2 linked regions of the Homo sapiens genome follow. The protein of the gene in region 1 interacts with the protein of each later gene in a biochemical or structural test. Each region holds a gene or a part of one and is shown on either strand. Other genes may lie near its edges. The genes, in order: INSIG1 and PCK1.

The links.
Region 2: the proteins of INSIG1 (region 1) and PCK1 form a complex in vitro, tested with the Homo sapiens proteins (one study listed by BioGRID).

Annotation. Positions count from the first base shown.
Region 1 is NC_000007.14:155,307,614-155,310,787, reverse strand, and holds the end of INSIG1 (insulin-induced gene 1 protein), read right to left. Parts: intron 2,548-3,174; coding exon 2,518-2,547; coding exon of another isoform or gene 2,430-2,517; 3' UTR 553-2,429; downstream 1-552. UniProt on the Homo sapiens protein: Oxysterol-binding protein that mediates feedback control of cholesterol synthesis by controlling both endoplasmic reticulum to Golgi transport of SCAP and degradation of HMGCR.
Region 2 is NC_000020.11:57,564,078-57,568,905, forward strand, and holds the end of PCK1 (phosphoenolpyruvate carboxykinase, cytosolic [GTP]), read left to right. Parts: intron 1-91; coding exon 92-316; intron 317-404; coding exon 405-536; intron 537-962; coding exon 963-1,058; intron 1,059-1,272; coding exon 1,273-1,727; 3' UTR 1,728-4,044; downstream 4,045-4,828. UniProt on the Homo sapiens protein: Cytosolic phosphoenolpyruvate carboxykinase that catalyzes the reversible decarboxylation and phosphorylation of oxaloacetate (OAA) and acts as the rate-limiting enzyme in gluconeogenesis.

The sequences.
Region 1 (3,174 bases):
TAACCTGTGAGTGCAAGTAACTCCAGCCACGCCGGCTGGCAGCAGGGAAGCTGCCCCTGTGACAGGCCAGGCATGCCCGCTCCTCCTGCCTGAAAACCGGGTGCCTGTGGTGAGGAGGGGTAAGGTGGCAGGTTCAATTCAGCTCGTGCTGCACTTAAAACTTTCTACCATAAGAAAAACACATACTGTTGACCCTTAAACAACACAGGGTTTGAACCTGTGGGTCCACTTATATACATGGAGCTTTTCCAACCAAACATGGTTTATTTGCTGAATGTGAAACCCACGTATACGGAGGGCTGACTTTTAGTGTACGCAGGTTCCGTAGGGCCAAGTGCCAGACTTGAGTATGCAGATTTTCGCATACGTGGGGTATCCTGGAACCAATGTCCTGTGTATATTGAAGGATGATTCAAATACTTCCCAAGAGGTTGTGTCAAAATTCAGTAAAATTTGAAGAACTGCAAAATATTTCTCCATTACAAATTCTAACATCCTACACAGAGACCACCACCCCAACTGTTTTTTAAAAAGCAAACATAAATACAACACTTGGTTTTGAACCTTTAATAAAAGTAAAAAATGAATGCAAAAAGAACACAATGTTGAAAACTTAGTATGAATGTGAACCTCACTAGATGTTCAAATCTGGTAGAGTGCAAATTTTGTTCATACTATTTTACATTTTTACAAACTCAAATCACTTTGGTTCATATATTTTCTATAAACTATTGGCAAAAAAATCCTCAAATTTACATTCTTTTGGCTACATTATTTCTAACAGATATAGATTTACTTCCGGTTTCGGAGAGAAAGACTTATTGTGTGTGCGTGATCAAGTCTGTTTTAAAGATTCACTCGCTGCTTTCATCTAATAACTTCTGGTTTTTCATAAAATGCTGACATCTTCATTGGAAATTTTTTTCATGTAACTGTTTTCATTTTCAGAAAATATATAAGGGGGTCATTCCAAAGTTCAGAATGATCCTATTTTTTTAAAAAACAAAATTCCTGTAAAACAAATTAACTCCAGGAACTTAAAATTTACTCCAAGACATTTCCCTCAAAACAAAGCAAAAAACCCCAGCAAAGATCGTTACATCACAAAACCAAACACAAAGACCAGCGCTCACAGGCAAGTTCCTCTAAGCTTCCATTCTGCTGACTGGTGGCTTCCATTTAAAAGGAGTCTTTTAATCAAGCCACTTTCACAGAATTTAAAACAAACCAAACACATGTAAATTGCAAAATACAAAAAGGTAAATTTATAAGTAAAAATGACCAAACCCACAAAACTGGAGTATTTCGAAGGTTGAGGGTTCAGTGGAGGGTGTAACACGAAAGGAACTTCACAACTGAAAGAAATCATTGCCGAGTTTCCTCCAGGCAGCACTGAAATGAATGGAGAACCTTCTCTCGAACATCTCACACGTTAAAAAAAATAAATATTTAAGAGATACAAGGCTCAGATTGGTTTTCATATACATTGCACTTGAAGTTTAAGACCCAATACTTGCAAATTAGGTCTGGTATGGTCTATGCCATTAAATGAATACATTGTGCTCACCAATATCATTGACTAGAAACACCACACGTTTAATGCAGTGCCATATGCACTCTCCTTTTTACAAGGCAATCACAGATTGCAAATTCCATAGGGCTGTGGCAAAAAACAGTCATCTCTATTCTGTAGTAACAAACAAACAATTTTGGCTCACTAAGATTGAAATACATGGCAGACAGGTATTCATTCTTAGATGACTATGGATTTCGAAATAAACTTCATAAACTGAGGTGAAAATTCCAATATATCGCAGTGTGGGAACCAAGACTTTTCATTGCCTTTTGCTCAGTAAGATTGTCTACACAAACTGCCACGGGAGGAATGACAAGCAGTTGACCCACTGGTGATACACACACGTGTGACCATGTAAACACGCCACTGCAGGACGGACGAGCGTGACCGTGAAGCGTGGCCACGCCGCGACCCCACTTAGAGTGTGACCTCTCTATAATCACTGCTGCTTTTCTTGTTTTGTTTTTTTTTTTAAACACAGCCCTATTTTTAAAAATCTTTTGGATAAATATTATTCCTATTACACCATACTTCATGTTTGTTAAGCACCATCAACCTACCTCCTTTGGGCACTGACACAAAACTGCGGGTTGGTAATTGAGTCTTAGTTCAAGGCTTTGAAATATGGCAACTTGTTTTAATCACATGAATGAAATCGAATACTTGGGAAGCTGCCACCTGCCTGAACCCACGTAGCCTGGGCAGAATGCTCCAGGGCACAGACAGGCGCCAGTGCGGGCAGTCAAGGGAAGACTTCAGGGTAAGTCATCATTCTCCACCTCCCTATTCTAGACTAGGTGAAGAGTTTTTTCCAGGAGTCATTTGTACAGTCAGCCCGATCTAAATAGATTACTTAAGAAAAAAGATAATCTTTGTCATAATCCACAGTCAGATTTTCTTCCAAAATCTTCCTTGCTCTCAGAATCGGTGGTTTTGAAGACTCAATCACTATGGGGCTTTTCAGGAACACCCTATGTGTAGAAAGGAAAAAAAAAAGGAAAGAGAAAATTAGCACTAAATGTATAAATATTTTAATTACCAATTAAGTAGGTCCTAACATGGGAAAGATTGACACTTTCTTTGACTGAAGCAACAAGATTGAGAGGTGGGACATGTGCAGAGAACTGGAGACCGAGGCCAGCTCTCCCAGCTCCCCTGCACCGTCTTCATGGCTCTGGCCCCGTGAGCCACAGCTCTCACCTGCAAAATTAGGATAATTCTCTGCCTCAGGTGAAATTACGCTGCTGAGGCCCTTATATAAAGCCTGTTATATAAGTGTAAGATATTGGTGAAAGTTTAACTAAATTAATATCTATATAAAGGAAACACCCAATTTTATCAAAGCATGGTGATGCTTAGGGTATGATAGGTTCCTGAAAGTTCTAACTGCAATTTAAGGGATTGAACCTTTATCTGAAGGGAGGTTTCTGCCACAAACCTTTATTAGTATCTGATGCCTGTGTTATAACCCACCTTACCAGCAGTTTGTTGAAACAGACATTGGAAATAGGTCATGCTTTGTAATACTGAAGCTCTGTGTGCCCTCAATTCACACAGAGCTTCACAGTTGGGAAATCCTTTCTACATGTTCTTCCTCA
Region 2 (4,828 bases), on another chromosome or scaffold:
TTGGCATAGAAATTAGTCCGGCAATATATAAGAGTATATGTTCTGCTTTGCCTGGCACTCACTACTGCTTCTCTGGTTTAAAACTCTCCAGGTCATTTAAGGGCCATCAACCCAGAAAATGGCTTTTTCGGTGTCGCTCCTGGGACTTCAGTGAAGACCAACCCCAATGCCATCAAGACCATCCAGAAGAACACAATCTTTACCAATGTGGCCGAGACCAGCGACGGGGGCGTTTACTGGGAAGGCATTGATGAGCCGCTAGCTTCAGGTGTCACCATCACGTCCTGGAAGAATAAGGAGTGGAGCTCAGAGGATGGTGTGTCCCTGCCAGAGGCCTTGGTGTGCCGGGCTGCAGGGACTGCCTGTTTGAGCCAGGCACTCACGAGCCTTTCTCTGTCTTATAGGGGAACCTTGTGCCCACCCCAACTCGAGGTTCTGCACCCCTGCCAGCCAGTGCCCCATCATTGATGCTGCCTGGGAGTCTCCGGAAGGTGTTCCCATTGAAGGCATTATCTTTGGAGGCCGTAGACCTGCTGGTGAGGCTCTCCTTCATTTAGGCTGGGAACATGGGTGTGCTGGGTACCGAAGGGCATCTGTGAAATCTCTCCTTTTCCATGACCTTGTCAGAGGGTGCCCAGGGGCTTCCTTTCTTGAGCTTCCTTCCCAAAGATCCAGAATAATTGGCAAGTTCAAATGTAGAACCAACCCTTCTGGTCACCTGGAACCTTTCTGAATCCCTGATCTATTGTAGCTTGATCAAATTTTACTTTTTACTTTGTGGCCTCAGTCATGTAACTTTGAGTTAGCAGTTTTCTGCAATTTAGCTTGGTGAACGCAAAACTAGCTCGATTACAAAGTTATTGTCTTGCCGTGTCTTTCCGTGTTGTGAATAACACCACTGGTTGTGGAGTCTGAATTTCAAAGCCTCTGATGAACATTTCTCTTTTTTTTTCCTGCTAAAGGTGTCCCTCTAGTCTATGAAGCTCTCAGCTGGCAACATGGAGTCTTTGTGGGGGCGGCCATGAGATCAGAGGCCACAGCGGCTGCAGAACATAAAGGTAAATCAAAGTCCTGATCTGAAACCACAGAGAAGTGGGATTAGAGCACTCTTCGTCACTCTTATGTCTCTCTCCTTTTCTGTGTCTGTGTGTGGGGAGAGAGAGAGAGAGAAAGAGAGAGAGGAGAACAAAGCATGCTAATGTCAACAATCAATGGCGTCAGTCTTGCCTAGGAGAGCCTCATTTACTAATGAACTCCCTCTCTGTTTAACAGGCAAAATCATCATGCATGACCCCTTTGCCATGCGGCCCTTCTTTGGCTACAACTTCGGCAAATACCTGGCCCACTGGCTTAGCATGGCCCAGCACCCAGCAGCCAAACTGCCCAAGATCTTCCATGTCAACTGGTTCCGGAAGGACAAGGAAGGCAAATTCCTCTGGCCAGGCTTTGGAGAGAACTCCAGGGTGCTGGAGTGGATGTTCAACCGGATCGATGGAAAAGCCAGCACCAAGCTCACGCCCATAGGCTACATCCCCAAGGAGGATGCCCTGAACCTGAAAGGCCTGGGGCACATCAACATGATGGAGCTTTTCAGCATCTCCAAGGAATTCTGGGAGAAGGAGGTGGAAGACATCGAGAAGTATCTGGAGGATCAAGTCAATGCCGACCTCCCCTGTGAAATCGAGAGAGAGATCCTTGCCTTGAAGCAAAGAATAAGCCAGATGTAATCAGGGCCTGAGTGCTTTACCTTTAAAATCATTCCCTTTCCCATCCATAAGGTGCAGTAGGAGCAAGAGAGGGCAAGTGTTCCCAAATTGACGCCACCATAATAATCATCACCACACCGTGAGCAGATCTGAAAGGCACACTTTGATTTTTTTAAGGATAAGAACCACAGAACACTGGGTAGTAGCTAATGAAATTGAGAAGGGAAATCTTAGCATGCCTCCAAAAATTCACATCCAATGCATAGTTTGTTCAAATTTAAGGTTACTCAGGCATTGATCTTTTCAGTGTTTTTTCACTTTAGCTATGTGGATTAGCTAGAATGCACACCAAAAAAATACTTGAGCTGTATATATATATGTGTGTGTGTGTGTGTGTGTGTGTGTGTGTGTGTGCATGTATGTGCACATGTGTCTGTGTGGTATATTTGTGTATGTGTATTTGTATGTACTGTTATTGAAAATATATTTAATACCTTTGGAAAAATCTTGGGCAAGATGACCTACTAGTTTTCCTTGAAAAAAAGTTGCTTTGTTATTAATATTGTGCTTAAATTATTTTTATACACCATTGTTCCTTACCTTTACATAATTGCAATATTTCCCCCTTACTACTTCTTGGAAAAAAATTACAAAATGAAGTTTTATAGAAAAGATGGATTTGCTTTGCTTGGTTTTTCTTATTTGAGCTACCAAGAGGAGAGAACTCTGATTAAATATCTTGTGATTTAAATCCTGCCCCCTCCCCAAGAAGGTGGGGACGTTCAGAATCACACTTGAAGAGGGGGTGCATTGCCTGGTCCCAGGGAGAAGGAGGGAGCAGATGGGGAGGAATGAGGCAGGGAACCATGGTTGGGGTTTTCTGAATTTGCTGAAGCCACTAGTTGGCATCCTTTAACAATTCTACAAACCTTTAGATGGTGAGGCTTATGTGGCAGGACTGGGAGGGTTTAATGCATGCTTTTTGACAGTTTGGATCTGGAGGGGTCTCAGGCTTCCACAAAAATTACATTGTGGACAGTTTCATAGGATTTTGCCTTTTAACTCTTCAAAGCAACAGTTTTCTCAACTGTCATCCCCGCGGGGGAGCAGAGGAAGACAAGTGAGAAGGAAAAGGGGACAGGATCTGGGTTGAGCAAGCATTAATTGAGCGCCTTCTGTATCCCGGACATCATGCCAACACCATGGGCTGCCCGAGAAGAGAGGTGGGTGGTTTGGTCCCCAGCTCTGCCTTGAACCCTCACCTGCTCTCCTCTACTCCCAGTGTTTATTGGATATTCCAGAACAGTCCAAACGAACCATAAACTTTATATCACAGATTCAATCTGTGTAAATACTATTATCTTCAAGTTGTAGTTTCTTTCTTGGGCCCAGGCTGTGAAATTGGCTTCACCCCTACCACACCCCAGCGGGCAGGCTTGTTCTTATGTCACACTCCACCCCTCCAGTCTCCTCAACTGGAAAACTTGCCTCTTTTCCTCACTTCCTCTGCTCCTTACAATGGCTTCATATGGAAGGTGAAGCTGAGATCACCCCAATTTTACAGGTGAGGAAACTGAGGTCAAGCTAGGAGCGTCCAGCGGGGCTGAGAAATTGCCAGGATTTCCTTCCCCATTAAGGAGCTGAGAGTCTTAGCTCCAGACACGTTGGCTTGTTAGAATATCAAAACCACCGAAGGGGAAAAACCACTTACTGGAATTAAATGCTATCTGCTGTATTAGTTTAAATCAGTGGCGTTCAAACTTGTTTCTCCTTTTCACTGCGGAACACGTTCTTGACATGTACTTGACTCAGAGTCCCATGTCTAAAGGAGACAGAGCCCAAGGCAGCCCACCTGAAGCTGGGGAGGGAGTCCAAAGTGCAAGCCACCTGGTCTCCATTTCCCCGCCCCTTGGGGGCCTTTGGGCAGCTCCTTGGACCCCTGAAAGAGGCCACCAGGATAAACTTTGTTAAAATGCATGCCTTGTGCCCCACTGTCCTATTACGGGCTTTCAGTAGTCTCCACTCCCTCGGCAGGCAAAGACACTGGCCATCTCCAAATTCCCTCCCCTCCTGCACAGCATCAGCCACCTGGCAAGCAGTCTCACATAGGACCATTTGCCAGCAGGCCCTGCAAGCCTGGGGGACAGCCTAGAGGAGGTGACTTACATACACAGCATAAGAGTTTTCAGGAGACCAAAAAGATTCAATATATGTCATTAACTCCTGACTCAGTTTCCCCAAACCATGCCTCCTGAGTGCTCCCTCTGTCTCCAAATCCTGATTTTTGTGCGCGGACCCCTGTCTACAATAAACAGGATCCTATGACTTCTTTCTTCAATGTTCTCTTGTCGTGCCTTCAGATGATGCAAAGTATGTAAGCTAAGCCCACTTGCAGGAAGCTCACAGAAGGCAAGAGGCTCATCACTTGAAAATACGGTTGGAGTGAGATGGAAAGCCCAGAGTCTCCTGATTCCTGGTCTACCACTGGACCACATGACTCCAAAACCAACACTGTGACTGACGTCCTCTACTGGAGTCCAGTGTAAGAGCTGTCCCCTGACCTCCAGGAAGCTGTGTTGCAGTCTGGGTTAAAGACCAGAAAACAATAGTTACACAGCAAATGTTGAACCAGGACAACAAACCTGCCCTTATTCCCAGTCGAGTCACTTAGGGGGCACTGACAGGTAGGCAGGCGGGGTGGCTAGGTGGGGCCGGGGCACACTTGGGAGTCAGGAGTTACAGGGCTCTTTCTCTTCTCTCCCTCTCCCTGGGGACCCACCCTAACCTGGACACCCCCGGGCTGCTCACTCGGCCCTCTGGATGCCAACAGCATGCACCTTCCAGAGTGCACGGTTTTGGCTGTAAGACCGCAGGTCATGGGCCCTGTTGAGCTCCCTTGACCTGCAGCCCTGCCAGAGGGCACCGAGCCAGGGGAGCAGCTTTTGCTTTGTCCTCACCTTTAGCAATTGCAGCGATGAATTCATCTATGGGAAAGAGCTGGCCACCTGCTTCCTCCCTCCTGCCCTTTTTCCTTCCCTGGGGGCAGTAAACACTGACAACCTTGAACACAGCAGAGCTCTGCCGCTGGCCAGTGGGGTCTTCTTCTGTCTCCTCTGTGCCAC